4 separate regions of the Homo sapiens genome follow, and all the other regions are reported to be linked to region 1. The links are microRNA targets in miRTarBase. Many come from high-throughput screens and were not tested one by one. Region 1 holds a microRNA gene; each other region holds the end of a gene's coding sequence.

Region 1 (8,184 bases):
GCCCGGCCCGACCACCTACTTTTTACCCCTTAACAATTGGATTATTTTAAAGCAAATTCCAGGCACTATTTCTTCCATATTATATATTGTCCCGGCGATATTTTAGCACATATATTTGAAAGATAAGCTCTTTTTTTTTTTTTTTTTTTTTGAAACAGGGTCTTGCTCTGTCACCCAGGCTGGAGTGCAGTGGTGTGATCTCAGCTCACTGCAACCTCCACCTCCTGGACTCAACCTATCCTCCCACGTCAGCCTCCTGAGTAACTGGGACTACAGGCCTGTGCCACCACATCTGGCTAATTTTTGTATTTTTTCTAGAGATAGGGTTTTGTCAAGTTGCCCCGGTTGGTGTCGAACTCCTGAGCTCAAGCAGTCTGCCTGCTTCGGCCTCTCAGAGTGCTGTAATTACAGGTGTCAGCCAAAGATAAACTCTGTATTTATTTATTTATTTTCTTGAGATGGAGTTTCACTCTTGTTGCCCAGGCTGGAGTGCAGTGATGTGATCTTGGCTCACAGCAGCCTCCACCTCCTGGGTTCAAGCAATTCCCTGCCTAAGCCTTCTGATTAGCTGGAATTATAGGCATGCACCACCATGCCCGGCTAATTTTTTTGTATTTTTGGTAGAGACGGAGTTTCTCCATGTTGGCCAGGCTGGTCTTGAACTCCTGAGCTCGGGTGATCCGCCCTCCTCAGCCTCCCAAAGTGCTGGGATTACAGACGTGAGCCACCATGCTCGGCCAAACTCTTTAAAGCATAATTCCCATGCCATTATCACCACCTTTAAAAAGTAATAGTTATTCCTTAGCAAAATCAAATATCTATTCAATATTCACATTTCTTAGACTTTTAAACCAAGTATGGTATTAATCAAATTGATTTGTAGAGATTTTGCCATTCTGCCAATAGGTGGTGCTACAGAGAGCTTTGTGGGAGGGGACTTCTGGTAGTTACGGTGAGTGAGGAAACCATTTAAACCTTCTTTGAAAATGTAAAAATGCTTTTATTAATGGATAGAAAGATTTTTTAAAATGAAGTTAACATTTTGACCTTTTTGGAGACTATTAGTAAACATTTTTGCTATACAGTTAATCTTTTGCTAGTTGACAAATTAAATCAAATGGTAGCAGTTTTCAACCTTATTTTGGGAATGGAGGAAGGGAGCTTTCTTGAGAGGAAGTAACTGTTAGCCATTTGTCGATAGATATATATATATAGAGAGAGAGAGAGATTTATTTTAGAGACAGGCTCTTGCTCTGTCGCCCAGGTTGGAGTGCACTGCCATGCTCATAGCTCACTGCAACCTTGAACTCTTGGGCTCAAGTGATCCTCCCACCTCAGCCTACCAAAATGCTGGGATTACAGGTTTGAACCACATACTTGGGCTTATTTTGAGAAAGTGTTTTCTGTGTTGTAAACTATATTATGTAAAATTAGGTATATCGCAATCTTTTTTTGGCAGTCTACGATAGTAATTTATTTTTTAAGCATTTTAAAAAATGGTGGAAATCAAGTTTGAATTGATTTTAACTATAGTTTAGTGAAGTATAATAGTTCTATGAAAGCTTTTATTACCAGTTTTGATCTAGGGTTGGTGTAAATTAGAAATTGGTATGAAATCTTTTGTAACATTGTTAAAAAATGCAACAATGCTCCTGATATTATCACTGCTCCCGATATTATTTATTAAGTTCTTCGCGGCTCCATTTTTACTTTGCCTTATTTGCTCTGAAATCTTTTAGTTCTTTAGTTGTTTTTTTGAGGGGAGGGTAAGGGAGGTATGTGAATGGCTACAAACATCCAAAAGAAACAAATGCATTTGGAAAATTGACTGTTCTAGAATACTTGTTCTGCTTTCTCTCACAAGACTTGATTTATGAATTAATTGCAGGAATTGTTAAAAAAGGTGAAATTTATTCCTGGATCAGCACTGAATGGCATGGTTGAAATGATGGACAGGCGGCCATATTGGTGTATATCAAGGCAAAGAGTTTGGGGTGTTCCAATTCCTGTGTTTCATCATAAGACCAAGGATGAATACTTGATCAACAGGTAGAATGCTTTCTAAAATTTTTTAGTGTTTTAAAGTGAAATATTTTTTCTTCAAAAATTGAAAAATAATGTGGATGATTAAGAACCGTTTATATATGTTAAATAAAATATGCTAAAATAGTCTTTTGGGGGACTAAAATATAAGTTCAAAACAATTCTATCATACAGTTAAAATATTAACTAGATTTTCTTAAATATTGATACTTAGAAGTAAAGTCTCTGACTTTTTTTCTATGAGAATTTATTGGGCTGTATTAAGGTATCATGGATCCAAAGATGGACAGTGTTTAGCAGGGGAGCCTGAAATGTATTTTTTCTAAAGGAATGAAGAGAATCACTCTCACATTCTGAGTCTGCTTTCCTTTTCAGTGGAAATGGGATTATGTAATTGTGTAGATACTTAAAATTTAAGAAATTGTAGTTAAATGCACATGATTACACTGATGATTATATTCCCAGTTTTTCCCTTTTTTTTTTTTTGAGTTGGAAAGGTAATAGATGGACATAGTGAACAATTCATAGTAGAAAAGCTTGTACACTGAAAAGTAGGCTTTTTCCTACTCCAGGTATCCAGAACCTTTTTTTGAGGCAGTCATTGTTTACAGCTGTTTCTGAATCTTTCCAGAAAAAATGAATTCTTCTGTCAGCACATACATATGTTTATACAAAAGAGAGTATCTCTATCTTCTGCTCTGTGCCTAGATTTTTTTCACTTTATGTGTTATGATTTATTCCAAATCACTACACATAGATCAGCCTCATTCTTAAGCTTTATTAAAGCATACTTTACATACTATAAAATTCATGGCCAGGTGCGGTGGCTCACGCCTGTAATCCCAGCCCTTTGGGAGGCCGAGGCTGGTGTATCATGAGGTCAGGAGTTCAAGACCAGCCTGGCCAAGATGGTGAAACTCCATCTCTACCGAAAATACAAAAATTAGCCAGGCATGGTGGCGCGGGCCTGTAATCTCAGCTACTCCGAAGGCTCAGGCAGAGAACTGCTTGAACCTGGGAGGCAGAGGTTGCAGTGAGCCAAGATCGTGCCACTGGACTCCAGCCTGGGTGACAGAGTGAGACTCTATCTCAAAAAAATTAAAAAAGAAAAATTCATTTATTATAAGTGATTTATAGTAAATTTGTTAAGTTTTACAGCCACTATCATAATTGTGTCTTAGAATAATTCTTTTATCCCGAACAGCTCCCTTTTGTGCTTTTCGAAAGAGAAGTTGCTTGGAAATCTGTGAGCTTTGGAGAATGGCAACTGAATTTGAACCCAGGCTTTGCCATTCACTGTGTGTGAGACTGAGGAATTTACTTAGCCTCTGGCTCCTCTATAAAATAGGAAAAGCAATGGTTGCAGGTAGACTGTTATGAATACTAAATAATAAATGCAAACTACTTGGTGTAAAGCACAGTATTCCATAGATGATGAGCTATTCATGTATTCACTTAAGAAACATTGTTATGTGGGCACAGTGGCTCATGCCTGTAATCCCAGCACTTTGGGAGGCCAAGGCGGCAGGATTGCTTGAAGCCAGCTGTTCAAGATTACAGTGAGACCCCATCTCTACAGAAAAATTTAAAAATTAGCTGGTGTGGTAGTGTGGGCCTGTAGTCCCAGCGACTTGGGAGGCTAAGGCGAGAGGATCGCTCAAGTCCAGGAGTTTGAGGTTATAGTGAGCTATGATCATGCCAATGCACTCCAGCCTGGATGACAGAGCAAGACACTGTCTCTTCAGAACGAAACAAAACAGAACACATTGTCAAGCACTTAGTACGTGTCAGTGCTAGGAACTGCTAGTTGCTACAGTGAACAAGACTGACATGGCCCCTGTTTTTAATGAGATAATAGTCTAGCTAGTTTATCTTCTAGTAATATTAGGGAGGCTTTGAGTGTTGTTGCTGTTTTTCACAGATGTGGAGAGGGGAATGTTAATTCTTCCTTTTAGGAACACATTCCAGATTTTCATTTTCTTTGAGCAATTTTTTTTAATTTGGTGAATGGAATTTTTTCTAAATTATGCTATTAAGAAGTTTAAACTTTTAAGTAGACTTGAGGAGTAAGAGTATGTTTTAGGAAAAGAAAGTAGAGGCTAGAGACTGGAAAGTCATTGGAAAGCTATTTCAATATTATTATAAGTTGGATCTGAGGTAAGACTTTAGGAATAATCTAAATATTGTTGCTGTGGTGTTCTTACAGAGCTTGGTCAGATGTAAACTACTAATATCTTAATACTTACATTAAGAATTAATGTAAATTCTGTCCAGTTCAGATTATTTTATTTTATTTTTGATACAGTCTCACTCTGTCACCCAGGCTGGAGTGCAGTGATGTGATCTTGGCTCACTACAACCTCCACCTCCCAGGTTCAAGTGATTCTCCCTCCTCAGCCTCCTGAGTAGCTGGGACTACAGGCACGCGCCACTGACTTGGCTAATTCTTGTATTTTTAGTAGAGATGGGCTCTTGCCACGTTGACGAGGCTGGTCTCGAACTCCTGGCCACAAAGGATCCATCCACCTCTGCCTCCCAGAGTGCTGAGATTACAGGCATGAGCTACCATGCCCAGCCTCAGACTTAGTTTAAAAGAAAAAGAATTAAAGTGATTATACCTGAGACGAGTTTCCACAAACATTTGTTTAAAATTTCACACTGGAAAGTTTTTTTTTTTTTTGGAAAGTTTTATAAGCCATGTCATTGTCTCCTCTTCTTTTTTTTTTTTTTTTTTTTTTTTGAGATGGAGTTTCACTCTTGTTTCCTAGGCTGGAGTGTAGTGGCACGATCTCAGCTCACTGCAATCTCCGCCTCCCAGGTTCAAGTGATTCTCCTGCCTCAGCCTCCTGAGTAGTTGGGATTAGAGGCATGTGCCACCACGCCCGGCTAATTTTATATATATATATTTTTTAGTAGAGACGGGGTTTCTCCATGTTGGTCAGGCTGGTCTCAAACTCCCGACCTCAAGTGATCCGCCCGCCTCAGCCTCCCAAAGTGCTGGGATTACAGGCGTGAGCCACTGTGCCCGGCTACTCTTCTTTTCACTATTTAGAGAGCAAGATGTCTAGGGAATTTCACTGAAGTGATTGAGGTGGGTGGGGATTCCTTGGTGGAATAGCCCTCTGGACTCTGAGGTGGATCATATGTATGTATTAGTAAATATAGCAAACTGGTTTAATTGATACATCCTGATAATTAAATGGTACATAGGTTGACTGGTCAGTAAGTTAGGTTAAATAAATATGAGCTTTGTCAGAAAAACACAAGTTTTCATTAGGTATATTTATGTTTTATTTACTCAATACATTTACATGGTAGTGTTACAGATTATCTTCTGTGTACCTGCCATTGCGTTGGTTGCGTGGTGTTAGTCGATTTCTGATATTGAAGTAGCACAGTCATACAGAATATTGGCCTAAAGAAATGACAGACAAACTCAGCTATATTGTCTGTCAATTCATAGGTCATTTTCCTGTATACCATTTCTGAATGATGACTTTAATCCTCTTCCATTATTGGATCTTTTTGGTGTTACAAAACTTGAATTTAAGAAAATTGATATTAATTCTTAATCATTTGTTAATTTTATAAAACAGGCTGAAAATCTTTTTTTCTGCTGGAATCAAATGAGAGTCCAAGTGACCACAATTTTCTGTCTTTCTTTATTATACCTTTATATTGTAGCAAGTTGGTAACCATCAAAAGTAACAGCATCTCCACTGGAAATTGGTACACAGTCCACATGGAGTTGCTGTTACACTTGATAACACCATTAAACATATAAGGAGATTCCTTTTGCTCATCATGGGAGCTGTACGATATCTCTAAGTATACTTGTTTCACAGAAGAAAGTCTCGATTTATTCATGTTCTAAATAAGTTTAGGGACTGGTAGATTTGAAACGCTGATGTTTTATTTTGATTTGAATTAATAGTGTCATTTGCATTTTAGATCATATTTGTATTTTATCAAGAAATAATTCCATTTCTGACTTTACTGTCATTGGTCATTTTTTGAATCTGTGAGATAATGCCATTAGAATTTGGGTTGAAATCTGTTACTAGTCAATAAAAACAGAAGAAATAATTTTTAGCATAAAAAAGATAAAATGTAGAAACACTGGCTACCTGGGAAGGAAAAGAAGTTGGTTAAATTTCTTTCATCATTTCAAACAGTTATAATCACTTTCATGCTATTAATGCTATAGTTAACATAGTGAAACTTAGCCCCTAACTTCTGGAAATTATGAGAAATTTAGTAAAAATAGCCAAGGAATTTCCAATATAATTTGAGTGTTAACTTTAGCTACCTCAAATTTTTTCTCAGTTAACAATAATAAACCTTTTGTTCAAAAAATTTATGTTCATTAAATAAAGAAAAATTTCTTCAAAATGGTTTTCTGTCAGCTTTAAAACATAAATCTAGGATTAAACTAAAAATAGAATTTCCCCTTCCAAATTTCACATTGTTCTAGAATTAAATTTAGTAAACAAATGTGAAACATTTAGCCTCTTACCTCATTCTTCTTCCAGTAAGTTACAGAAGAAAAGTTGTCTTAATAATCTTCAATATTTTTGCTTATAAAGGCAAAACACAGAAGACAGTGGGATGACAGCAGTCGTTTCTTTGTTGCTTTAGTAATCTTAATGCTGCTTAATGTCCATAACACGCTAAATAAGCCTCATTCCGGTTGATATCGAAGTTCAGAATGATTGGCTGATGTCATAGTTGCTCATGCTACCTAGTGGATTTTCACTGATTGAAACCTAAGAAGGGACACGTAATGCATGTGTTGAGATAAGGCCTTTGAGTAAAGTACAAGGTTTTATGATGGATTTATTGCTTTATGAAGTAAAGCATTAAGATGGAAGCATATAGATTACATACTGGTAAGTGGTTTCACCCACTTTTATCAGCAGTCGTTTATACTGATCTTTGGGTTATAGGTTAACTATGAGTTTGTGTTAAGTATACAATGTTAAAGAAATGAAGGTAGAATTCTTAAATTTCAGACAAATTAGGAATTTTCCTGCATTTTTTTCTGAAGAATATTAAATATCACAAGGAAATAGTTAGAAAATTGTTTAAAAATTTTTTTAGGAAACAGAAAATTATTTAAGAAATCTTTTAAGTATTATCTTGGTTTCATTATAAAAAAATTCCACTTCTAAGTATTTACCCAAAGGAAATAGGACTAATACCTCTTGTGTGAGGATATGTATATAAGATGTCCAATACAGTTGTTTATAAAGGAACATAATGATATACAAAAGAAGATGTAATTTAATTAGTTATAGAAGAATGAATATGTACCTGTTAAAAATGTCAGCTTAGCTCTTAATGGTTGCCTAGTTCCTTGTGTATGAAAATCAAATGAACATAACTTATCCAGTGTTTGGATTTTGTTAGATGTTTGTCACATCTCTATAATGAGTGTCTTTTGAGCACTTGTTCACAGTTAACTTTATATACTTTTTTCAAATTATCTTTTTAGATTTTGTTTGAACATTAAGTTTATCTTTGTTTTTATCATCATTATACCTAGCTCAAGTTTGTGGGTTATATGTCTGTTTATTTTTATTGCAATTTTTGTTTTCAAAGCTCTCTGTCACACTTTTTTTTTTTTTTTTGAGTTGGAGTCTTGCTCTTGTTCCCCAGGCTGGAGTGCAATGGTGGGATCTTGGCTAACTGCAACCTCTGCCTCCCAGCTTCAAGCGATTCTCCTTCTTCAGCCTCCCAAGTAGCTGGGATTACAGGCTTGCGCCACTATGCCTGGCTGATTTTTGTATATTTAGTAGAGATGGGGTTTCTTCATGTAGGTCAGGCTGGTCTCGAACTCCCCACCTCAGGTGATCCGCCCGCCTCGGCCTCCCAGAGTGCTGGGATTATAGGCGTGAACCACCGCGCCCGGCCTTTTTTTTTTTTGAGATGGAGTCTCACTCTGTTGCCAGGCTGGAGTGCAGTGGTGCAATCTCGGCTCACTGCATCTTCTGCCTCCTGGGTTCAAGTGATCCTCCTGCCTCAGCACCCCCCAAGTAGCTGAGACTATAGTCACGCACCACCATACCTGGGTAATTTTTGTATTTTTGTAGAGACCGGGTTTTGCCATGTTGCCCAGGCTGGTCTTGAAGTCCTTAGCTC
Region 2 (8,184 bases), not on the chromosome of region 1:
GGCCCAAGACAATTCTTCTTCCAATGTGGCCCAGGGAAGCCAAAAGACTGGACACCCCAGCCTTACACCCTCTCTCTGGAGCAGCAGAGCTCCTGAGCATGAGTGGCCCTGTCTCCTGCAGAGGAGGCAGCCAGAACTTTGCTCCCTCCCGCTAGAGGGGAGGAAGCTCCTAAGGGATTGTCCCACATCAGTATGAGATTAGGAAGTGGGATGGTTAGTGCCATCCTTCACCACACCTGGGTGCAGTGTAGGGTGAGTTACCACTCCCTTGAACCCCCATTGCTAGGAAGACGTTTCCATGAGCAAATAAATCCATGTACTGATGCCAAAGACCTCTTGGCTGGAAAATGCCAGAGCGAGAAGGAAATATAGGAGCCTCCCCTCACTAGTTTCCAGGAGGCCTATCTTTGTTCCTTTAAGCCCTTGACATGTAGAGTCTGTCTTGAGCCTGGCCTTCATAGCCACCCAGTTACTAAGTGACGTGCAGAGGGGCGTCTTCCATTCCCACTCCCAAAGGGACCTTGGTCCCAGCTCCGACCTCTTCAGCTGGCCCTCCTACCTGCAGATTGGTCCTTCCCGATTCCGGGCCCCTGAGTTGCTCTTCAGGCCAGATTTGATTGGAGAGGAGAGTGAAGGCATCCACGAGGTCCTGGTGTTCGCCATTCAGAAGTCAGACATGGACCTGCGGCGCACGCTTTTCTCTAACATTGTCCTCTCAGGAGGCTCTACCCTGTTCAAAGGTTTGTCTCTTCTCTTGGAGCCCTTCCCCTGGAAGTGTTCAGCTCCTGCTGGCTCCAGGCACCCTGAGAATTGACTTGAAGTTCTCCTCTTTGCCCATTCAGGTTTTGGTGACAGGCTCCTGAGTGAAGTGAAGAAACTAGCTCCAAAAGATGTGAAGATCAGGGTAGGAGCATGGTGGGGCCTGGCCTGGGTGGAACTAGGCTTCCATGGACAGAGTGCCACCTGGCGTAGCTTCCCTCTAGCTTTGCCCAAGCTCTTCAAGCAGCCATGGCTCTACAAGCAGCGCCAGGTTCCCAGCCTGTACACTGACCCTGAGGTCTAGGTCAGCCACAGGGAGGCTGAGTTCTCATTCTCCCTCTTCACACCAAAGGCAGGCAGTTCTAATACCCAGATGAGGCAGGGTACTAGGTAGAGGGCCCCCTGCGTGATCTTTCAGGGAAACTATAATCTTAAGAGGAGACTGACTTACTGTTGCTGTGCCCCCTGCCCAGGTGGCTCCCCTGTCACACAGTCTGACACCTTAGTGATAGGTGAAGGAGGTTGGCTGTCTGAGGAGAGCGGGGATCCTAAAGGAAGGAGTACAGTTCTTGCCATGGAGTCTGCTTCTCCCTGCCCCCCCCAATAGTCCCAGCTTCCCTGGGACCTGTGGGGACTGGAAACCTGCTTCCCCAGATGAGTGGCAGGCTGGCCACAGTGCCCTCCAGAGAGGCCAGAGCTTCAGGCTTGTGTAAAATGTATCCCCTGCCATGGGCAGAAAGAGGAGCATTGTAGGGAAAGGGAGCGGGAGGGCTGGAAGTCTCAGATTCCTCTTTCCCCCACCTTTGCAGATATCTGCACCTCAGGAGAGACTGTATTCCACGTGGATTGGGTGAGTAGCTCTTCCAGGAGTAAGAACAGAACAGGAAGTGATGGCACTGATAACCCCTCAGCACCCTCTAAAGAAAAGCCTGATTTGGTTTGGCCCCAGGGGACTGGTAGGCTCCACACACAGCCACTTCTCTCTCACACAGTTCCTCTGGGTTTCCTCCCTCCAGGGGCTCCATCCTTGCCTCCCTGGACACCTTTAAGAAGATGTGGGTCTCCAAAAAGGAATATGAGGAAGACGGTGCCCGATCCATCCACAGAAAAACCTTCTAATGTCGGGACATCATCTTCACCTCTCTCTGAAGTTAACTCCACTTTAAAACTCGCTTTCTTGAGTCGGAGTGTTTGCGAGGAACTGCCTGTGTGTGAGTGCGTGTGTGGATATGAGTGTGTGTGCACATGCGAGTGCCGTGTGGCCCTGGGACCCTGGGCCCAGAAAGGACGATGAACTACCTGCAGTGGTGATGGCCTGAGGCCTGGGGTTGACCACTAACTGGCTCCTGACAGGGAAGAGCGCTGGCAGAGGCTGTGCTCCCTCCTCAGGTGGCCTCTGGCTGGCTGTGGGGGACTCCGTTTACTACCACAGGGAGACAGAGGGAGGTAAGCCATCCCCCGGGAGACCTTGCTGCTGACCATCCTAGGCTGGGCTGGCCCCACCCTCACCCCCACCCCCAGGGTGCCCTGAGGCCCCAGGCAGCTGCTGCCTCCACTATCGATGCCTCCTGACTGCACACTGAGGACTGGGACTGGGGTTGAGTTCTGTCTGGTTTTGTTGCCATTTTGGTTTGGGAGGCTGGAAAAGCACCCCAAGAGCTATTACAGAGACTGGAGTCAGGAGAGAGCAGGAGGCCCTCATGTTCACCAGGGAACAGGACCACACCGGCCACTGGAGGAGGGCAGGAGCAGTCCTCACTCTGAATGGCTGCAGAGTTAATGTTCCCAGCCCAGTCCCCTTTCGGGGGCCTTGGGAGAGTTTAAGGCACCTGCTGGTTCCAGGACCTCGCTTTCCATCTGTTCTTGTTGCAATGCCATCTTCAAACCGTTTTATTTATTGAAGTGTTTGTTCAGTTAGGGGCTGGAGAGAGGGAGCTTGCTGCCTCCTGCCTTGCTACACTAATGTTTACAGCACCTAAGCTTAGCCTCCAGGGCCCCACCTCTCCCAGCTGATGGTGAGCTGACAGTGTCCACAGGTTCCAGGACCATTTGAGATTGGAAGCTACACTCAAAGACACTCCCACCAGGCTCTTTCTCCCTTTTCCTCTTGCTCACTGCCCTGGAATCAACAGGCTGGTTGCTGGTTAGATTTTCTGAAACAGGAGGTAAAATTTTTCTTTGGCAGAGGCCCCTAAGCAAGGGAGGGGTGTTGGAGAGCCAGTGCCCTTAAGACTGGAGAAAGCTGCAATTTACCAAGTTGCCTTTTGCCACTGTAGCTGACCAGGGGACTAGGTTGTAGAGGTGGGAAGGCCCCCTCTGGGCTGATCTTGTGCCATTCTTGACCTTGGACCTGCTTGGTTAAGGAGGGAGTGGGCCAGACCAGAGTGCCAGGAGCTAATGGAGCCAGGCCTGACTCCTAGGAGTGGTCCAAAGGCCTTCAGCCTAGATGGTGCAAAGCTGGGGCCAGCCTGTCTTCACCGGCACCCTCACCTGTGACACCAAGACCCACCCCAATCCCAGACTTCACACAGTATTCTCCCCCACGCCGTCCTATGACCAAAGGCCCCTGCCAGGTGTGGGCCACAGCAGCAGGTATGTGTGAAAGCAACGTAGCGCCCCGCGGACTGCAGTGCGCTTAACCAACTCACCTCCCTTCTCTTAGCCCAAGCCTGTCCCTCGCACAGCCTCGCACAAACCACATTGCCTGGTGGGGCCCAGTGTACTGAAATAAAGTCGTTCCGATAGACACGTCAGCTGGGCCTCTATCTGTCTGTCACCAGGGCCAAGTGGAAAGAGGAAGAGCAGCAGGCACTGAATCTGAGGTGGTGACTGGGCCTGATCCATCCTCTAGAGGGCATCATTGCACCAGCCAGCCTTGTCCAGAGCATAGCCCAAGTCCCAGCCTGTCAGGTGGATGCAGAGAAAAGGGTGATCACACCACAGCCTAAGTTCAAGAACAGAAGGTCCCACTCCTGTGTACACTGTAGCCCATGGGTGAGACTCAACTCCAGATGACAGGAGCAGCTCTCAACATCCCTGAAATCAAAGATTCTCAAAACTGTCAAGTGAATAAGAAGGCCAGGAGCTTGGCCGGGCACGGTGGCTCACGCCACACCTGTAATCCCAGCACTTTGGGAGGCCAAGGCAAGTGCATCATAAGGTCAGGAGTTCAAGACCAGCCTGGCCAAGATGGTGAGATCCCGTCTCTACTAAAAACTACAAAAATTAGCCGGGCGTGGTGGCAGGCGCCTGTAATCCCAGCTACTCAGGAGGCTGACGCAGGAGAATCGCTTGAACCCGGGCAGTAGAGGTTGCAGTGAGCTGAGATCGCACCAGCCTGGGCGACAGAGTAAGACTCTGTCTCAAAAAAAAAAAAAAAAAAAAGAAGAAGGCCAGGAGCTTATTACAGTGCAGTTTCCAGGGCCCATACTCAGATATCCTGATTAATCACTTCTCCGTTTAAAACCTGCACTTGGGAGGAAAATTGCCAGGTCTTTGCCAAATGGTAACTATTTAATCTTCCCAATAACCTTACAAAATATACGTGCTTTTGTTGTCCATTTTACAGATAAGGATTTGGAGCCACAGAAAGATTAAGCAATTTTCCAAAGTTCTGCCTTTTTTTTTTTTTTTTTTTTTTTTTGAGATCATGTCTCACTTTGTCACCAGGCTAGAGTACAGAGGCACAATCTCAATCTCCGCTCACTGCAACCTCTGCCTCCTGGGTTCAAGCAATTCTCCTGCCTCAGCCTCCCAAGTATCTGGGATTACAGGTGCCTGCCACTGTGCCCAGCTAATTTTCATATTTTTAATAAAGATGGGGTTTGACCATGTTGGCCAAGCTAGTCTCGAACTTCTGACCTCAGGTGATCTGCCTGCCTCGGCCTCCCAAAGTGCTGGGATTACAGGTGTGAGCCACCGTGCCCAGCGCTGGCCTTTCTTAATCCCGAATGTAAACCCAGGCCATAGAACCTACAGCCTACATTTTTAATCACCATGCAGCCTGTAAAAAACCATTGGCCTAGAGCAGTGGTTCCCAATTGGAACCAATTTTGCCTCCCAGGACACATCTGGCAATGCCTGGAGATGTATTTGTTTGTCGCAACTGGTGTGTGTGTGGGGTGGGGTGGGGGGTGCTAAATGTCTACAACAGAGAACAATCTGGCCCCAAATATCTCCAGTGCTAGTGCCAAGGTTGAGAAATGGTGGCTGAGAGTCATGGTTTTCAGTGCCAGCTGCATGATAAAATCACCTACAGAGATGTTCAAAATCCTACTGCCCAGGCCATACCCCAGACACATTAAGTCAGAATCCCAAGGAATGGAACTGAGATGTCAGTATTTTTTAAGTTCCCCAGGGGACCCCAAGGCTGAGAACCTCGGGCCTAAAAGAGGCTCCTCTCTCTTTGACTACCATGTCCAGCAGTGATACATGGGAAATGCACTGAGGCCTAATGGTCATTTTGGGCCCGAGTGCCTATGCAGTTACCAATCTATGTTTTTCTCCCTGGCATCTTGGTAACCCACCAAGGTGGGTTTTTTTTTTCTTTGAGATGGAGTCTCATTCTGTCGCCCAGGTTGGAGTGCATGCAGTGGCGCGATCAATGCAACCTCCTCCTCCTGGGTTCAAGCGATTCTCCTGCCCCAGCCTCCCAAGTAGCTGGGATTACAGGCACACACCACTACACCTGGCTAATTTTTGTATTTTTAGTAGAGATGGGGTTTTGCCATGTTGGCTCAGGCTGGTCTCAAACTCCAGACCTCAGGTGATCCACCCACCTCGGCTTCCCAAAGTGCTGGGATTACAGGCATGAGCCACTGCGCCCGGCCTACCTACCACTCTTATTCAGAAAAATGCTCTCAGGGGCTTTTTCTAGTCAGTAAGGAATCCTGGTTCTCAACCCCAGCAACCCACCACTCACTCACACAGCACAGACTTGAGGAAAAAGAATGGCTGACTTTAATCAGTCTATAAGGAAATAAACATCTTTAGAGGCCGTGTGGGGGTGGGGGAGCCCTGCAGCAGAGGAGGCATGCCACTTCAAGCACAGCTGAAGCAGAGAAACCTCTCAGAGAAACCACTAGAAGGGTGGACGGAGTGGGAGGTGGGACTTACAGTCAGCTTTCCCTGACTGGGCAAAAGGGAGCAGTTGCAGTATTAAAAGTGGTTCCTGAGTCCACCACAGCGGCCAGCTCCAGTCAGGCAGCGGGATGGGCTCCCACGCCCCATGGCAGGCCTGTGTGCACCACAGGGCAGCCCCCTCCCTTCTTGGTCCTCTTCTGTCCTCCTGCCTTACAAGAGAAGCACGTCCCTGAGCACATATGGCCCAGCCCTTGCCCAAGCTGAGCCAGACAGGTAAGCAGAGACTTTCACTGCAGTGATGCTTCTGGCTCAGCCCCAGGAGCTACCCGCTGCCATGTCTTCCAGGCTGCACTAGAGGAAGGCAGTGGAGCAGGGTGCTGGTAAAACTAGCTCCTGGCCGAGTGCGGTGGCTCATGCCTGTATTCCCAGCACTTTGGGAGACCAAGGCAGGCAGATCACTTGAGGTCAGGAGTTCGAGACCAGCCTGGCCAATGTGGTGAAACCCTGTCTCTACTAAATAATACAAAAATTAGGTTGGCCACAGTGGCTCACGCCTGTAATCCCAGCACTCTGGGAGGCCGAGGCGGGCTGATCACCTAAGGTCAGGGGTTTGAGACTAGCCTGGCCAACATGATGAAACCCTGTCTCTACTAAAAATACAAAAAGTAGCCGGGCATGGTGGCACGCTCCTATAATCCCACCTACTCGGGAGGCTGAGGCAGGATAATTGCTTGAACCTGGGTGGTGGTTTCAGTGAGCCCAGATTGCACCACTGCAACAGATCCATTTTTTTGGGCAACAGCTCCAAAAAAAAAAAAAAAAAACTATGAAATCCTTAAAAAAAAAACCAAAAAAAACTGGCTCCTTCCCCAGGCTGCCAGCAGCATCCTCAGTGGGGTGACCTTGCCACAGCTCTCACACCATCTTAACATCCAGGGTTTGGGCCTGTGACAGGTTCTGGCGCTGGGCCTTGACCATGTGCAGGCGTCTCCCATGCAGCGTGAACTGGGACCAGGTGAAGAGCTGCAGCAGAGCACAGGTGATGGGCACCAGCACCAGCAGGTAGAAGCAGCCCTGGCGGAGCGTCGGGGCCTGTGCAGGGGCTGGAGCTGGGGGCTCTGGCCAGGGATGGGCACTCCCCACAGGGGTTATGAGGGACTGCTGGAAGAGGTCATGACCTAGGACAAGAGAGCACAGAAAGACCATGGTCAGCCCACTGTCCTCCAAGCCTTGGTGCCCTCCAAGTCTATGGTGTGACATCTCAGACACCACATGGACGTGTCCAGACCACAACTCCTGATTCCTCCAAACCCACTCCTCTCCTACTCTTCCCATCTCAGTGACGGGCACCACCATCCACCCAATAACTCAGGCCCAAAACCTCAAAGTCCTCCTCAGTTCCCTGGTTGGTTTCACGCCATCACTCCCCAACACCCAATCCTTCATCTCCCCCCAACTCCAAAACGTATCCCACCTGCCACCACCCTGGCCCAAGTCTCCACGGCCTCTGCCAGTCTCCCAAAGATGTCCCTGCTGTCCCCATTCTGGCCTCCCTATGATCTGCTGTCCATATGGCAGCCAGAGTGAACTTTTTTTTTTTTGGAAAGAGGGAGTCTCGCTCTGTCACCTAGGCTGGAGTGAAGTAGCACGATCTCCACTCACTGCAACCTCGGCCTCCCAGTTTCAAGCGATTCTCCTGCCTCAGCTTCCCAAATAGCTGGGGCTACAGGCATGCGCCACCACACCCAGCTAATTTTTGTATTTTTTAGTAGAGGCGGGGGTTTCACTATATGTTGACCAGGCTGGTCTCAAACTCCTGACCTCAGGTGATCTGCCCTCCTCAGCCTCCCAAAGTGCTGGGATTACAGGTGTGAGCCACCTCACCCAGCCCAGAGTGAATTTTGTTAAAAAGTCAATCACACTACGTCACTTCCCTGTTTAAAACCCTCCCTGGCCGGGCGTGGTGGCTCATGCCTGTAATCCCAGCACTTTGGGAGGCCAAGGTGGGTGGATCACCTGAGCTCAGGAGTTTGAGACCAGCCTGGGCAACCTGGCAAAACCCCATCTCTACATAAAATACAAAAAGTTACCCAGGCATGGTGGCATACGCCTGTGGTCCCAACTACTTGGGAGGCTAGGTGGCAGGCTCACTTGAACCTGGGAGGTCGAGGCTGCAGTGAGCCAAGATCGTGCCACTGCACTCCAGCCTGGGTGACAGGGAGACCCTATCTCAAAAAGTAAATAAATAAATAAATAAAAATAAAACCCTCCCAACAGCTTGCTTCCAACACTGCCCTGATCAACAAAGTCCTCTTCGCTTTTCCAGCCACATTTCCTAATCAC
Region 3 (8,184 bases), not on the chromosome of region 1:
TGAATGGGACCAATGCAGGAATTGAAAAATAGAGCCTCACATTGACAAGACAGAAATCTATTGCTAGGACTTTGCAAGATTTATTAAGAAAGTGGTCAGTGTTTTAAAATGACGGCTAATTTCACCCAGAAGCATGGAAAAAGGCACTCATTCAGCCATTGTCTGCTTATTAATAAAAACCTGTAGCTTACATAGTGAAGCTGAGTTGCCCTGAGAATTACACCAGCTGTCTTTCTGACTAAATTCAAGCAGTGGCTTTAACTGACCTTTTTTTTTTTTTATCTGAATTAAGATCATTTGGGCCACACCTATGAGCTGAGGTCTAGTTCAGATTTGTTGGAGAATGCTCACCCATCAGTAATTTTTTGACTGATTCAAGCCCCTTGACCAATGGACATTAGAGGATGAATGAGAAAGTGGAATACATTAAGTAACTTAGAATGAAGAAAAATCATAGCATAAGAGATACATTTTTGACACTTTGTAACATGTAAATTATAATTAATACATAAATTTGCACCAATTACTTGACTCAAGAGCTCAAAACTTTCTGTAATGGGTTTGAAGCACAAAAATACAGTGTTTATAGTCAGAGTGCAGCCTTTACTTTCAATAATGGTTATGGAAAGCAAGTTTGGCTTTAGGTTGTAAAGAGTTTTTCAGTGCCAAGGCATTTGACTGCCCTTTCTTTCTTATTCTCCATTGTCTTGCAGACCAGATGATGTGCTTCTGCATCGCACTCATGATGAGATTGTCCTCCTGCATTGCTTCCTCTGGCCCCTGGTGACATTTGTGGTGGGCGTTCTCATTGTGGTCCTGACCATCTGTGCCAAGAGCTTGGCGGTCAAGGCGGAAGCCATGAAGAAGCGCAAGTTCTCTTAAAGGGGAAGGAGGCTTGTAGAAAGCAAAGTACAGAAGCTGTACTCATCGGCACGCGTCCACCTGCGGAACCTGTGTTTCCTGGCGCAGGAGATGGACAGGGCCACGACAGGGCTCTGAGAGGCTCATCCCTCAGTGGCAACAGAAACAGGCACAACTGGAAGACTTGGAACCTCAAAGCTTGTATTCCATCTGCTGTAGCAATGGCTAAAGGGTCAAGATCTTAGCTGTATGGAGTAACTATTTCAGAAAACCCTATAAGAAGTTCATTTTCTTTCAAAAGTAACAGTATATTATTTGTACAGTGTAGTATACAAACCATTATGATTTATGCTACTTAAAAATATTAAAATAGAGTGGTCTGTGTTATTTTCTATTTCCTTTTTTATGCTTAGAACACCAGGGTTTAAAAAAAAAAAAAAGGTGAGGACATCTGGGTCTCATTTGCTTCTGCTAGGTTAAACTTTTACTTGACAACAAGGATTCCTGCTGAAGTCTGAACCTTACTGTGTAACCCTCAGTTTCCACTATTAAAGAGTATCTTTTGACGTCTGCTTGGAAAATGAATAGTATACTGGTAACTCAGTCTCCAGTCACCTCTGTGTCTCTTAAGCAAGAGATTCTAAAAGATTGGGAAAACATATCCTCCAACACCTGCCTTTGCCTAACCATTATTTTTCACCAGATTACTTCTTAAGAGAGGGAGGTGATTCTGAAGAAGGCTTCTATCTCAAAAAGCACTGGGCTTCCTTATTCATCTGTTCTTGTTGTTTTTGACGGAGTTAAAAAAGTTTGTGTGCAATACAATATACATGATGTGAAGGACACTCTTCAGCTTAGTGAAACGCTGTTTTCATTTTTTTTTTTTTTTGTAGGTCAGAAAAAAACAACAAAATCAGTTCAAGCATTTTTTTTTCTTTGTCCTTGCCTTGATGTTATGAGTATTAAAACCAGGAGGATTGCTGCCATTGTGCAGTTTGCTTAGACAAACCTGGAGATGCAACCCAGCTCACATCATTGCTACTGATGAGCTTTCTGTGCCTTTATCAAAAGTTGATTGAGAAGACCATATTTCTTTGTATCTTTTTATAAACTCAAATTCCAAGTATCAAATCGCAGGTCTCAGTGAACATCAAACCTATTTACTACATAGAATCAAACCTTTGTTTAGGTGAGATGTACATCGTTAGTGGAGGAAAAACTGACAACCTAATTTCATTTGTTTTCTTCTGATACTCTTCAGACATGCCTCTATTAGAATAAAGGTAAACTGGAATTTAAAGACAAGTTCCCCTCAGTTATTTCCATGGAGCTGTAATATGTATATATGGAGTGATGGTTTCCTGACCTTTAGTCCACATACCAATGTTTTCTTTTTTCTTTTTTTTTTTTTTTTTTGAGATGGTGTCTCACTCTGTTGCCAGGCTGGAGTGCAGTGGCACGATCTCGGCTCACTACAGTCTCCACCTCCTGGGTTCAAGTCATTCCTCTGCCTCAGCCTCCCGAGTAGCTGGGACTACAGGCACGCACCACCACGCCTGGCTAATTTTTTTGTATTTTTAGTAGAGACGGGGTTTCACCGTGTTAGCCAGGATGGTCTCAATCTCCTGACCTTGTGATCTGCCCACTTCACCTCCCAAAGTGCTGGGATTACAGGCCAATGTTTTCTTAATCTTAGAATGTGAATAACTGAAAATCATAGTCTGTGGAAAGGTGTTGAATTGAGTATAATCTTCTTCTGTTTATTTTTGTGTTTTGTTTTTTAACAGATGGGTATCTTGCTATGTTGCCCAGGATGGAGTGCAGTAGCTATTCACAGGTATGATCATAGCACACTGCAGCCTCAAGCTCCTGGGCTCAAGCGATCCCCCTCCCTCAGCCTCCCAAGTATCTGGGGTTACTGGTGTGCACCACCGTGCTTGGCTCCAATAATTTTTTTTCTAATTCAAAAGTTACAGTTTCACTGTGAAAAAGGCCTTGAACACACTATTTATGACATCTTTTGAGGCAGCTCCAGTGCCTTGACTTCAATCCCAGTTTCCGGTTGCAGCATCCTTGTTGTCTTAGCAACACAGTGAACTATTCTGAAGCATAGAGTAACACGAAACTGGGAGTCCGAGAAATAATCATCTCTGCATCACATTATGGGAGACGAAGTCTGCTTTATCCATTTTATCTTTATTCAGTTGTCTATGATTAATTGATTACAGAGTAGTAGATTAGAATAGTGCATGGATATACATTTGTGTTGAAAAAAGGGGAAGTTGATATATATCAATCTTAGTTTTCATTTATCAGTTTGATATTCATGCATTTACACTAAACGCTTCCATTTATCCCGAAAAAGTATATGCAACTGTATTCTGTAGGTTGATTTTTGGAAAAGGGGAGAAGCACACTGAATTCATAAGGTCACATGTAGTCTTAAGGTCTTACTTGCTTACAGCCAATTAAATTTGAAGCACCTTATTTATACTTGTTAAAGGTAAAACCCAAAAGAACAAGCAGAGGACATTTTAAGGTCATAAAAGGTAAATAAGCTTACCTTCTTAATGTTTTCATTCTCTTTTTGTATAAATCAGAAAATGATCTAAACTGCTGTAACAAAGAGACCCCAAAATATGATGGCTCATGTAAGATAATTTATTTTTTTCTCACATAGCAATCCAGAAGTGGCTTCATTTCACAAGGTATTCAAGGGATATAGGAGTCATCTACCTTGTTAGTTCTCTTAATACCCAAGGGTATTGTTCTTTCCATGGTCAAAGCTGGCTCAAGACTTCCTAGCCTGTGAAAAAAGAAGAAGGTGGAGCAAGCCATTTCCTTTTTAGGAAATTACAGCCATCACTTCTGCCCACCGTCCATTCATGAATACTTACTATATAGCTATACCTAGCTTCAAGAAAGCCTGGGACGTGTCTCTAACTAGATGGACATGTGCCCTACTAAAACTCCAGGGAAAGGGTTCTATTACTAAAGCTAAAAAGAGGGGAATGAATACTAGAGTTAAAGACAAAAATGATAGCAGCCAATGGCCCATGCCGTGATAATCTGCTGAGCAGGCATGATGGAGATCCCTTGCCCAGCAGAAAGTGTTCCTTGGTGAAATCATGAATCTGCTATCTAGGAGAAACTCCCTTGTCCATTGTCTTCTGTGGCCACTAGTTTGACCTCTAGGAAAGTCTTGCTCGTCAGCTTCTGTGGCCCCGTCTGAAACTTTTGAGGGACATCGCAGCTTTTGCAGCCCCTGCTTGCTGGTGCAGACTTTTAGACCTAGATTGCCTTAGAGACTGAAAAATATACGCTTTTATAGGCCGGGGTTTTAGTTCATTTGACTGTAATAAAGACGTCAATGCCGTTTTTAATGTTTGACTGCTGACATCTTTCAAGACTCACCTTTCCCTTCTCCCTTATGCTGCACATCTGGGCAAGCTGATGGAAGCATGGGTGCCTCCTCCTTTGGCCCCAGCAGGAAGTTCAAATCACGCAAGCCCTGGCATGCATGCAGGAAGCTTCACCCCAGCCTCACACTCTAAGACGGATAAAAGCCAAACCAATTAAGCCGTTTCTCGACCCTCCTGGGAGCCTGCCCTATCTCCCTGGAAAGTCTCAGTATGTGAGTAATAAACCTTTTTATACCCATTTCTTGTGTGTGTGGCATTATCAGTCTCAGCATCCGAACTGAATTCGTGGTAATTTTCTATGAATTTTGGGAGGAGGAAGTTCATCTGACATCTTAAGGGTCATCATAGCATTGGTGACATCATTTTATCAAAAATACTAGAGGTTTCTGGTTCATTTGCTTTCAGTCAGTTCATGTGAAAGTAGCCACAGCCAAAGAGCTGTTCTAGTTATAGTTCTTTAAGCCAGCAATGTGTTATTTATTAGTCACTGTGCCTGGCCCATACCTCTGTCCCTCAAATTAATGGCAGCCATCTTGAAGTCTTCTCCAACAATGAGTTTAAGTGGTGATGCAACATTCTTCATCTGATCTTTTCTGCCGAAATGACTCCCATTGTCTGACCAGTAACACAATGGAGACTTTTTTTTTTTTTTTTTTTTGAGACGGAGTCTTGCTCTGTCACTCAGGCTGGAATGCAGTGGCGTAATCTTGGCTCACTGCAACCCCTGCCTCCCGGTTCAAGCAATTTTCTTGCCTCAGCCTCCTGAATAACTTAGATTACAGGCTTCTGCTGGCTAATTTTTGTATTTTTTAGTAAAGACAGGGTTTCACTATGTTGGCCAGGTTGATCGTGAACTCCTGACCTTTGGTGATCCCCCCATCTCGGCGTCCCAAAGTGCTGAGATTACAGGCGTGAGCCTCTGCACCCAGCCACAGTGGTGACTATTGAACAAAACTGAATAATAGTCACATCTCCTGCTCCCTTGAATGCAGAAGCAATTGTACTTCAGGGCATGGTGTTATCTACTTGCAAACTTTTTATTTTTTGATCTTACAGCAACTACTTTTGATAGTACCTCACTAAAAACATCAGCAAGGAGCCACCAATATACATTAACCACTCTGGTTCTAACTGCTTTCCCCATAGCTAGTCTGCCTTTCAAATTGTTGCTGGTGTCAGTTTTACCTAGTGATTGGTCAAAACATAACAAGGGTCTCTAGTTTTTCATCCTGCAATATCTGTTTCCACACTGCCGGTTGCCTGGCAACACAATACCAGAGCCACATATTTTAGATTTTTGTTATGATGGCACTTTTCCATTCCTACGTATCAGTCAGCTAGAGCTGCATAACAAATAGCAAAGACTGGGTGGCTTAAACAACCAAAATTTGTTTTTTAACAGTTCTGAGGGCCAAAAGTTCAAGGTCAAAGTGTTGGCAAGTTTGGTTTCTCCTGAGGCCTCTCTCCTTGGCTTGCAGATGGCTCCCTTCTTGCTGTGTCCTTACACTAGGCACTTGTGCCCCTAATGTCTCCCTGTGTGTTCCAGTGTTCTCTTATAAGGACACCAGTCTTATAAGATTAGGGCCCCTCTCTATGATTTCATTTAACCTTAATTATCTCCTGAAAGGCCCTATCTTCCAATATAGTTACATTGGGGCTTTGGCCTTCAACCTATAAATTTTGGGGGTCTACAACTTAGTCCATAATATTCTGGTACTGAATTTAAAACTATTAGGGTGTCGGCTAAGCCACTGTAACAGAGAAACCCCCAAATACTGTAGTTCCAATAAGATAATTTATTTTCTTTCTTGTAGCCATCAGGAGGTAGCCCATGAAATTGTCCAGGGACTTATATTTATTCTACCATTATTTTTACTCTATTATTATTTTATATTATTATTATACTTATTCTACCATTTATTCTGCCATTCCCTAGAGTGTCCTCTTCATAGTGGTCAACCTGTGGGATGGAGAAGAGAAAAGTAAAGGGCAAGCACATACATTTGAATAAAATGAGATAGAAGTTGCACACATCAAGTTTGTATATTCTTTTGGTAAGAAATTAACTGCAGAGGAACCTCTTGCTGAGCAGCCATGCCTTCTAAAACCTGGGACAGAGATTTTATTATTAAAATGAGGAAAGGGAGAATGAACGGGGGGGAGGATTATCAGTTCCTTCCTACATTCCTCTTCTATACATCTTACATTTTGTATTGAGTATGAGAAGAGACCTGAAATTTAGATGATTCTTTACATTTTTATTTATCTAAAATTGAAGTTTACCTAATTTAGTTTAATTTAATTATTTTACTGATTTAAATTAATCAGAATTTTCTTAAAATTCAGTAAAAGAAAAAAACGTAAGGGAAGCTTTGTTGCTTTGCAAAATAGGGAGATATTTCAGGAAGGTAAGGGGAGAGGTCTATCCTACAGTATGGAGTACAGAAGTGGGACTTAGAGATAGCCAAGAGAGTTTGAAATATTCAAAGAATATATACAATAGAATCTGTAGCCTTTTTTAAAAAAAAAATTAGAATTTCCATCTCTCTGAATGTATTCCAGTTGTAAAAAAAAAATGTATTGAGTGTCCCATCATATGGAAGTTTTTAAAATTGTAGGAAATAAAATATTCAGAAGGCTACACAAGGTATTAAAAAAGGGGACAGGGATATAATAGCTTACTAGCTTATTAGAATGAATTTGGTTCCTTATGAGGGATAATCTAGAGAAAAGAGGCATAGAATAAGATCTTTGGAACCAAACAGTCTGAGTTTGAATCCTGGCTCTCCCTTTTGGCATCTGTGTGATCTTGGGCAAGCTACCTAATTTCTATTACAGCTTTGTTATCTCAACTGTAAAATGAGGCTGATATTGATATATCATTGGAGAGGACTAAATGAGACCATGCAAAATGTGTACTTGGCACAGTGCCTGATCCACAAATACTGATGATGATGATGATGATGATGGTGGTGGTGGTGGTGGTGATGATGGTGATAATAACAGTGATGATGATGGTAGTATAGCATTAGTGCAGCAAAAAGGAAAAATGGACTCAAAACTAATTTTTCCTAAAAATTTGTGCTTTTATTTATCAGATGCTTCTAACTTAGTCCCCACCAGTCTAAGACTAGAACAATATTGGGATTTTCCTTTTCAGAAGTTCTATCATTGGCAAGTTGTTTTTATTTCCAGAACTCCAACTCAGAAGAAATCACCTCTGAATTCATTGTCTATTTAATAAAGTCAAGATTCTTCAAATTCTCCATTTTATTCAGTATTAAATAACTTTCAAAATATGGCTATCTTGAAAGTCTCCACTTCCTCATACTTAGCAATTTCCAGCATTATTTAAAAAAAAAATGTGTCTTTTCTTTGATGCAAAGCAATTACTGGGATACTTTCTTCTCAGAGAGGAAATGCAAAGAACATGATCCTTTCTGCCTGGTCCCTGTACAACATTGAAAACAACTGGGGTAATTTTTTATTAATGCATTTGTTAAAAAGATGCAACATTTCTATCTCCAAGAAGTTTGAAATATATAAAATGTATTCTGTGTCTCATTATCAGGTCTCTGACTCAGAGTAACTTTTACAAAGGTTTTTATCTTTTTTTCCCCTCTATGCTTCCCAAAGCATGACTAATGAGGCTGATGAATGTCATCATAGGAGCGCCGCGTTTCTGGCAGGTAGAAAAAGATCACATTAGGGCTTGGACTTCCAAGTGACATCTAGAAGCAATGAGAAATTCAAACAAGACTACCCTGAGTCTATGCAGGAATTGGTAGTGTTTGAAATTTGGGAGAAATGTTTTAATTTTTGTGAAAGTCAGTGGTGTTAAAGGTCAGAAATGTAACTACCTCCAGAGTTCTAGCATTCAGGGTAGTGAAGATGTGGTGAG
Region 4 (8,184 bases), not on the chromosome of region 1:
ATTGTGGGATACCCGTGATGACTCACAGGTACATTACATGTGTGTTTGTGGTAACCAACTGGAGTCTGGGAAAAATATTTATGCATGGTATTGAAATTTTAGAGAAATTGTGTTTGATACGTAAGGAGTATTCACTGGAAAAATTAGATGAATATGTGGAATATTCAAACTATTTATGGTTTTCAGTGTAATTTCAGACTCAGAAATGTATCTTTTTATAAATATTTTGGTACTTCTACTTGACACAAAGTAAATTTACAAATTTTTCTACTTTGTAAGAAAAAGGATTCCTGCATGTTGATGTGAGGTACAAACGCCATTAAAGAAATCTACAACTGAACCAGGAATGAAGAACGGAACAAAATTCTTAACCATTCGGTTTTCAATGACAGCATTATGATTTTGTTTGCTCTGTGGTTTTGTTTGTTGAGATTTTGAATGTAGTTTCCCATTAATATTAAAGAATGAGAATGATTTTGGAAACTCATTCCAAAATCATTGTATTTTGGAAACAAGAAATATGTGTGAGGGGCTGGGCGTGGTGGCTCACGCCTGTAATCCCAGCACTGTGGGAGGCCGAAGTGGGCAGATCATGAGGTGAGGAGAATGGGACCATCCTGGCCAACATGGTGAAACTCCGTCTCTACTAAAAATACAAAAAAAAAATTAGCTGGGTGTGGTGGCACGCGCCTGTAATCCCAGCTACTTGGGAGGCTGAGGCAGGAGAATCTCTTGAACCTGGTAGGTAGAGATTGCAGTGAGCCAAGATTGTGCCACTGCACTCCAGCCTGGGTGACAGAGCAAGACTCCATCTCAAAAAAAAAAGAAAAGAAATATATGTGAAGAAAAGTTGCCAATTTGTACTTACTGATATCTTCAGAGAACTCATTTTTAAGAAAAACTTTAATAAAAGGTAAAGAATGTTTAAGCTCGTAAGCTGTTCTTTATTTTTATTCATAGGTAACCTCAGTCTCTTGTTTAAGTCAGTAACTTATTTAGTGGTGTCTTCTTTCTTAAGGTCAGCCACACCCTTAGAAAAATTACCAATGAAAGTTGAAAAATTGCTCCCTTAATTGTAGCATTAGTTCAAGAATTTTTTTGAAAGAATAGTGCCATATGTATTAAAGAGATTTTTGAGGAACAAAAAAACACAGTCAAAAATTTGAGGGCAATATACTACTACTGATTTTACTCTAGAAATGAACCAAATTATTTTTAGTTGCTGTAGAGGTACTCCACTAAATCTGTAAACATGTTTTTTTGTTTTGTTTTGTTTTTTGCGTCTGCAGCGCAAATCCAGAAAAACCCTGTGCATCATCATTCTTATCCTTGTCATTGGAGTTGCGATTATCAGTCTCATCATATGGGGATTGAACCACTGAAGTTATAAAGGAGCACACTGTCGCACTACATTGTCTAAATTATGTAGGAAGATTCCTGTAATCATGTTTTTTTAATTATTATTTTAAAGCTATTGTATAAAGGATGGTTCCCATACTTTGTTATTTTTATTGGGGGGGTTGGGGTGGTTCCTTTGGATTAAATCTGATATTTTCTAATACTGAAAGATTTTCTAAATGTCACTGCTGACATAACTCCCTTGGTCTTCAATTTAATAGTTGTTAAGTTTTTGCCCACATTGCATATGCCTTTCATTTATAATTTATTTACCCTGCTTGACTTAGTTTTGGGAATTCGTAAATTTAAAGGTGTGTGTATTCTGTTTGCATCTCCCTGTCACTGTGACACACCTAGATGTGTGTTACTTCAATTAAAATTCTCAAATTTAATTTTGATTTGCTTCAGCAGGGAAAATATTCTCAATAATGTAAAATAATTAAGGTCTATACATGGGTTGTATTTTTCTGGTTCACAACAGCACAAAGTGTCTTTCATTTTTTTGTTGGTTTTCTTTTAAGATCTTTTTTACCCTGAAGTCGGTGAATACTTTTCTAGTTTATTTGATACTCTTTCTGTGTATATATTAAGCTTTTGCTGTAGATTGCCTAGTAAAATTACTAAGGATAGGTTGTTTTTACATATGGTCTATTTAAGTCTGATGTTTACGGGGGAAAGTGTAGTTACTAAAAATGTTTAACATAATTTGGAAGAAGAGTATGAACAACCAATACCAATACCTATTGCGTTTGGATTCTTAAGACCCCAGTTTGTTATTCCACTAAACTAGTTATCTTAACCATATCATCTGGTTTTGTGGGCCATTATTTACCTTCCCTTATGTCTTATAGAATAATGGTTAATATTTTTAGGTCAAAATTACTTTTGGAAAGTAACTTTCCCACAATTAACTGTTTTTGAGCACCTGACAAAATTTAGTGTTTACCTTGCGTGCCATTTTGTGTCATCCTTCATTAAAAAAGCAATTGGAGGTTTGCCAGTTATCTCACTTCCCTTTTTAAATCAATGTTGTTTTAATGCACTAATCTGAATTCTGTAAAGAGGATTATCTTAGTTTATACTTTGTATTTTATAATGTTCTTGTATAGCAGCTCGGTACTGAAGGCGGTGTTTAACTTGGCAAGCTCTGAGACTTCAAATGGGAACAAATAGTAAGTAGCTAAGTAAACCACATCTTTGCAACCAAAATAAAGATGAGTTAAAAGGTATCTGGTTAGGCCTATTTCATGAGGACTATGCTCTGGTGGGACCACAGGTCACCTGATACTTAGTGCTGTGCTGCCTGAAACCTCAGCATGGAGACATCACCACATGCACTGTGGCCATTCAGCATCTTTCTGGAGCACCAGTTCACTCCAGGTTTTTATTTTAGGGTGTCATCGATTTTACCTACTTTGTCAGACTGGTAGAAGTTGCTTTGCATATCAGAAAAACTCCATTTTTTTCCACAAAAGGGATTACAGAAAACTCTTTTGTGAGTGAGTGATTGGAACTTAGAGACTCCTGTTGCCAGAATCAGACTGCCCTAGAACAGAATGGACAATGCAGGGAGGAGAATTCACACAAACAGCACCTGTTCTGAGGCCTGTGCCAGCCCACCAGGCCTGCTCAAATGTGGTCTTTACTTCAAGTGCACAGAGGCACATGAGGTTTCTGGTGATAAACCAGCGTCTTACCGCTGTTTTAAAGTCCCATCCCCATGGCTTTCACAATCAGTTCCGTTTTTTTTGCTGTACTTGATAAAATGTTTATTCTCATACAGGTCAAGTACATTTACTTCTATTCACAGTGAGTACCCAATAACAACAAAAGCGCTTACAAATTTGGGGGGCGTGATTTTAGTACCTTTATTTGAAGTGTAATCATTTTAAATTATTATTATTTTAACTGGGGCAGTTATCAGTGGTTTAAACAGGAACTTTAGTGGCTTCAATTTGTTTAAGAAACATATTAAGTTTGAGGGAAAAATTTCCCATGAAATATTTGGAACGTAAGAGTAGTATTGATTAGAGAAAATTAAATAAGAAACATAGTATGGTAGCCAAATTTTTTAAAAAATCTTGAACTTTTCTGTAGGTCAGTTTTAGAACTGCTGTGAAAAGTGAAGGTTGCCCTGTGGAGATTAAAATTAGAGTTGTTTTCATAACTGACAGCATGGTGAATCCATTTGAGTCAAAGTGAAGAATTTCCTCATCAAGTGACTATACATTTGTTTTTGTGTGCTCAAAAGAAATACTCAAACACAGACTGATATTAACCAGCCAGGTAAATTGAACGACAATGTGGCATTAGGTATTTGGCTGTTTATTGGTCGTTAAATACTATGGTTTTGCAATATGATTGATGGTAAAAGAGTGATGTCATATTGATACTAGAGTAGCTTGTTTTTTTAGTAGGTGTGGGACCATCTCTTTTACAAGTGCAACTCAGTCTAGGACAGCCATGGATGCAGTGTCTGGAGTTGGACCCTCTGAGCCCGCTGGCTGCCCCAGTAGCATCTGCATTGGTGACCAAGGACACTGCACTTTGAAGAGGTCGCCACTGGGTTATTTAGTGTCTTCACTGCTTTTGTTAAAAATTGTAAAATTTTGTACACAAAAAGTTGTGTTTTTGAATATCAATTGTTTAGACACACCTACAATGATAAATAAGTGCCTTTAAAGGCCCCTCTTTCCATGAAATACATCTGTGGTTTAGCAAGGAAAGTACAAAATAGTTTATGTAGTTGGTATAATTTTTATTTGTGTCTTCATGTAGAAAAAATGAATGTCATAATAAAATATAAAACTTACGTAAAGAAAATAAAGTCATTGTCCACCTTAATAGCTAAGGTCCACAAGGGTAACTTATGCAGCATTTATTTTTTTTGAAAGTCAAAATTGAATTTATTTCTTTCACATGGCTGGTTTGCTGCAATATGAAGTTTCAGAATGGGCTGAAGTAAGTTGATTGAGGGATTTGAGTTGAATGACATTTTCAAGTTCATTTAAATATGATAAAAATTCATTGGTGGTAAATAACATCTGTCTTTCCTGGAAAAAAAAAAGTTGTGTATTTTCATGATTCAGTTAAAACAAAAAATGAGCCTGTGAATCCCAGGCCTTTTTAGTCCTCCATAACATTTGAACAGTTTGACTTGTCAGCAAAGAAATACACTTATCAAATTTTAAACCAATGGGAGCCTGAAAGTGTTACAGTGTACTGCTTCTTTGACAAAATTCTGTTTAACAACTACCCTAACATAATTTATAAATCAATTAAGATAAAACCATTTTTTTCTGAGTATTTAGGAATTTGTGTCCTCAAAATACTGTGACATGAAAGATAGGAAAGAAATTACCTGGTTGCCAGACATGCACGATTATCTTTCCTCATTTCAGCTGGATTTTCCAAAGTCAGTAGATTGGATAAAGCAGCATCTCATTCACTGAGGTCACAAGATAGGTAGGAAACTTCTTTAATGTGAATTTTGCATATTTTAACAATTCAGTTAGAAAAACAGAAACCACTTGATGGATTATAAGTGTAAAGTGTTTTAACATAGGGAATTAGACATCAAAAGGGTGGGTGAGGAAGGTGTCTGCGGCCCCAAAGTGGGTGGATCTCAGGAGCTGGCCCAGGCACTGCTGTGACTCTTGAGAACATCCAGAAGGCTGTGCTGTTGGCGTGCAGCACTGACAGTGTGTCTCAGGGAGCTGTCCCCAGCTGTCAGCTGTTAATAGCTCCAAAGCCAGTGCCTTGCAAGAGATTTTGAAACTGCTGTGAAACTCATGTCCTCTGCCCGCCTACACTTCTGTCTGCAGTGGCCTCTGAGGAAAGATGGTCTCTCCTTTTCTCATGGTCAACTCTCAACTTAGAACCAGAGACAGAAGGAGTTTGTGGGAAGTGTGGTTTCTGGTCTACCTGCACTGCAGAGGACATTCTAGAAAGAGAAGTGAGTTGACAGTCTAGCATAATTGTGAAACAAACACTGAGATGTACAGTTCAAACCACGTGAAGTGGAAGCCTCAGAATTTTCCTCACTTTCATTAAAGATTCTTTGATGGAAAAATTTAGAAGCATTGGCTCTAGATGGTAAGCAAGTCATTTTTTTCCAACCAAAATAAAAAATACATATACTAAGCTTCTGGGGCCCCAGGACTTAACACAGTTTCCTTCCTTCCTTCCCTTCTTCCTTCCCTCCCGTAGTAGTTGCTTAATAAATACTTAATTTGGCACTTATTTGGGGCCGGCTTTTTGCCAGGCTACTACATGCCTGGGCATAGTGTTCTAAGAGTGAACCAAAAGAATAAGCTTCCTGCCCTCAGGGAGTTTATGTTTTGTTATTTGGCATATAAAAAGAACTTGGTGTGTTAAAAGAAGGGAAATAGCTGTGTGAAAGGAATGAGGCAAGGAAGAAAGGGAATGTCTAAATATAAATCTCCGTTTGGACCAGCCTCCTGTTTATCCAGTTTTCCTTACTAAGTAACTGAATTTCATTTTCTTTTCTTAATTGACAGACTACCAGAAAATTGCTAGTTTTCTAAAGAGAAACTACTGATTTGAGTGATGATCTGTGTGTAATGGCTCCAAAAAGGAGCCGTTCTCTTGGTGGCAGCAGTTGGATTCAGAGCTTGGGCATCCTGATCATCAGGACAGACATTTACAGGATATGTATAGAATTACTGCCCCAAATAGAGGGCAAAGCACTAGACAGAAGGGTGAGATCCAAGGGGAATTTGGAATCTATATTTCATCAGAATGCACTCAAAGCAAAAACAGTAAGTATGCTCCATATAAAGAAATGTTTCTTAAAATGTTTTTAATTTAACCCTACCCATCCCTTGGCAAATCTTTTTCTTTTAAATCAAATAGGAATAAAGAAGAAAATCTTCCTATTGGCCCATTTTCTCATTATTCAAATACCATATCAATACACCAATTTTAATTCTTTGTTTTTGTAATCATTTGGTTAACATGAATATTATGTAATATTTTTCTCCAAATAATCCTAATTTTAAATGCAGAAATAGAGCTAAATAACACACTAAATAGGTTTTTGTAGACACTGTAGCTTCTGGCAAGTTTTTAAGAGGTTGGTCACTTAATTGCTTAGAGTGGGATTCCCGTAGGTTTTGTGTAGTGATGGCATTTATGCTTAAAATGTAAGTGGTGGAAGGCAAAACCAGATTTCCTGTCCAGTCGTTACACGCACAACACCTCTACTTGTTGACGAGGGAGTTTTCTAGAACTGAATTGAATCTTTAAATAAACTTGAAAGGGCATTAATTCCCACTTTGGCCAACCCAAAGTACAAATTTTTAAGTGTTTACTGTAAGTATCGTTAGGCAGTAGTTACTAACTCCAACACCTAATAGCATTGGTAGAAAGCTTATAAATGCAGTTATTTAGCCTCGACTAAGATTTTTCTGATACCTAGTTTCACTTTTTAATGCCCTCTGAAAGTTTTTTGATCAGTTGTTTAATGGGAGATCTGAAATGTTAAACTCAGACCAGAAAGAAGAGAACCTGTTTTCTAGAAATTAGGTTTTTAATCCAAGTAAGATGCAAGCTTTTGCTTTTTTAATAACTTGTATAGCTAAAAACTTGACGGTGAAAAGCTCTCAGATCAAAGCTGATCCTTCTGTCAGTAATGATTCTAAAAATAAGCAAGATTTTAATGGGGAATATATTTTATTTCATTCTTATCTCAAACCTAGGTACTGTGGTCGTTTTGAGTTCATTTCGAGGCATTTTCAATGTGCCTCAGGCCACATCCAACCTCTTCCCAGGGCCAGATTTAATGTTCAGCCTCATAAAGGTTATCATAGTTTTAACATTTAAGTACTATTTTGCAGTGGGTATATACCAAAATTTGCTAATAGTAAGATAACCTTAGTTATATATCATTCACGTTAGTTCTATCTTGGAGGCAATAAACATTTCTTGTTCAAGAAATTCATGTTCTATCTTGGAGGCAATAAACAAACATTTTTTGTTCAAAATTAGGGCTACCCTATTGTCCTTATGTCTTTTCCTGATCTGTGGTCAAACATTTTTCTTAGTCATTTAGAAATTTTCTATGTTGTTTTAAATTTTCTTTAAATCTAGAATGGAGTATGTGACCAATACTTTCCTTTGGAATGGTATGGACATTTGAAATAGAGCCCATTCTTTATAAAGTATAAAATATGTTTAATGCTAGTATTTTTAACTAAACTTTTGAGAAACTAGATTCACATGCTGTTGTAAGAAATAATACAGAGACCTCTTTCGTGTACCTTTCACTTTGTTTCCCACACAGTGAACATCTTTCAAAACTGTCATACAATATCATACCCAGGATACTGACACTGGTATAGCTAAGATAGAGAACGTTTCCACACAGAACTTTTTCTAGCACAGGGATCCCTCATCTTGCTTTTGATGACCATACCCACTTCACTCCCATCCCTACTCCCTTCTTAACCCTTGGCAACCATAATCTGTTCTCCATTTTTATAGTTTTTTTTTTTTTCATTTCAATAAAGCTGTATAACTGGAATCATAATAATATGTAACCTTTTGGGATTGGCTTTTTTTCATTTAGCATGATTTTCTGGAGGTTAATCCAGCTTATTATGTGTATCAAGTCTATTGACAGGTACTTTTTAGTGTGAATAGAATCCCATAGTATAGATGTACCACAGTTTGTTTAACTGTTCACCTGCTGAGAGACATTGGGCCAGTTTTTGGCTACTATAAATAAAGTTGCTATAAACATTTGTGTACAAGTTTTTGTGTGAA

What was found. The annotated mature microRNA hsa-miR-215-5p reads AUGACCUAUGAAUUGACAGAC and lies in region 1 at 5,491-5,511, opposite strand. An mRNA with a match to its seed (bases 2 to 7 or 8) in the 3' UTR can be bound and repressed. Matches are read on the target gene's strand: a 7mer-m8 pairs with bases 2 to 8, a 7mer-A1 pairs with bases 2 to 7 and ends in A, and an 8mer does both.
Region 2: the mRNA of SLC68A1 is a reported target of hsa-miR-215-5p. The part of its 3' UTR that is shown has no 7-base or 8-base seed match.
Region 3: the mRNA of KCNMB4 is a reported target of hsa-miR-215-5p. Seed matches in the 3' UTR shown: 7mer-m8 at 1,752-1,758.
Region 4: the mRNA of STX7 is a reported target of hsa-miR-215-5p. Seed matches in the 3' UTR shown: 8mer at 2,268-2,275, 7mer-A1 at 3,180-3,186 and 7mer-m8 at 3,493-3,499.

The regions. Positions count from the first base shown.
Region 1 is chr1:220,112,426-220,120,609 of GRCh38, forward strand. It overlaps MIR215 (microRNA 215), which reads right to left and starts at 5,537; the gene lies at 5,428-5,537. It overlaps IARS2 (isoleucyl-tRNA synthetase 2, mitochondrial), which reads left to right. Exons shown (of 23, transcript NM_018060.4): 12 at 1,889-2,049. MIR194-1 (microRNA 194-1) reads right to left here and starts at 5,816; the gene lies at 5,732-5,816. LOC124904515 (a long non-coding RNA gene) reads right to left here and starts at 6,688. Exons shown (of 2, transcript XR_007066883.1): 1 at 6,560-6,688; 2 at 5,317-5,458. It also overlaps LOC105373475. RefSeq lists an enhancer at 2,248-2,417.
Region 2 is chr10:102,474,557-102,482,740 of GRCh38, reverse strand. SLC68A1 (solute carrier family 68 member 1) reads right to left here. Exons shown (of 10, transcript NM_024789.4): 10 at 5,696-7,019. The coding sequence ends at 6,757. It overlaps ACTR1A (actin related protein 1A), which reads left to right. Exons shown (of 11, transcript NM_005736.4): 8 at 566-740; 9 at 843-904; 10 at 1,569-1,609; 11 at 1,776-3,512. The coding sequence ends at 1,878. Among named protein-coding and RNA genes, the nearest start is that of SLC68A1, 17 kb to the right of the region's middle.
Region 3 is chr12:70,429,772-70,437,955 of GRCh38, forward strand. It overlaps KCNMB4 (potassium calcium-activated channel subfamily M regulatory beta subunit 4), which reads left to right. Exons shown (of 3, transcript NM_014505.6): 3 at 714-4,521. The coding sequence ends at 882. Among named protein-coding and RNA genes, the nearest start is that of PTPRB-AS1, 34 kb to the right of the region's middle.
Region 4 is chr6:132,453,956-132,462,139 of GRCh38, reverse strand. It overlaps STX7 (syntaxin 7), which reads left to right. Exons shown (of 10, transcript NM_003569.3): 10 at 1,290-8,184. The coding sequence ends at 1,382. Among named protein-coding and RNA genes, the nearest start is that of STX7, 55 kb to the left of the region's middle.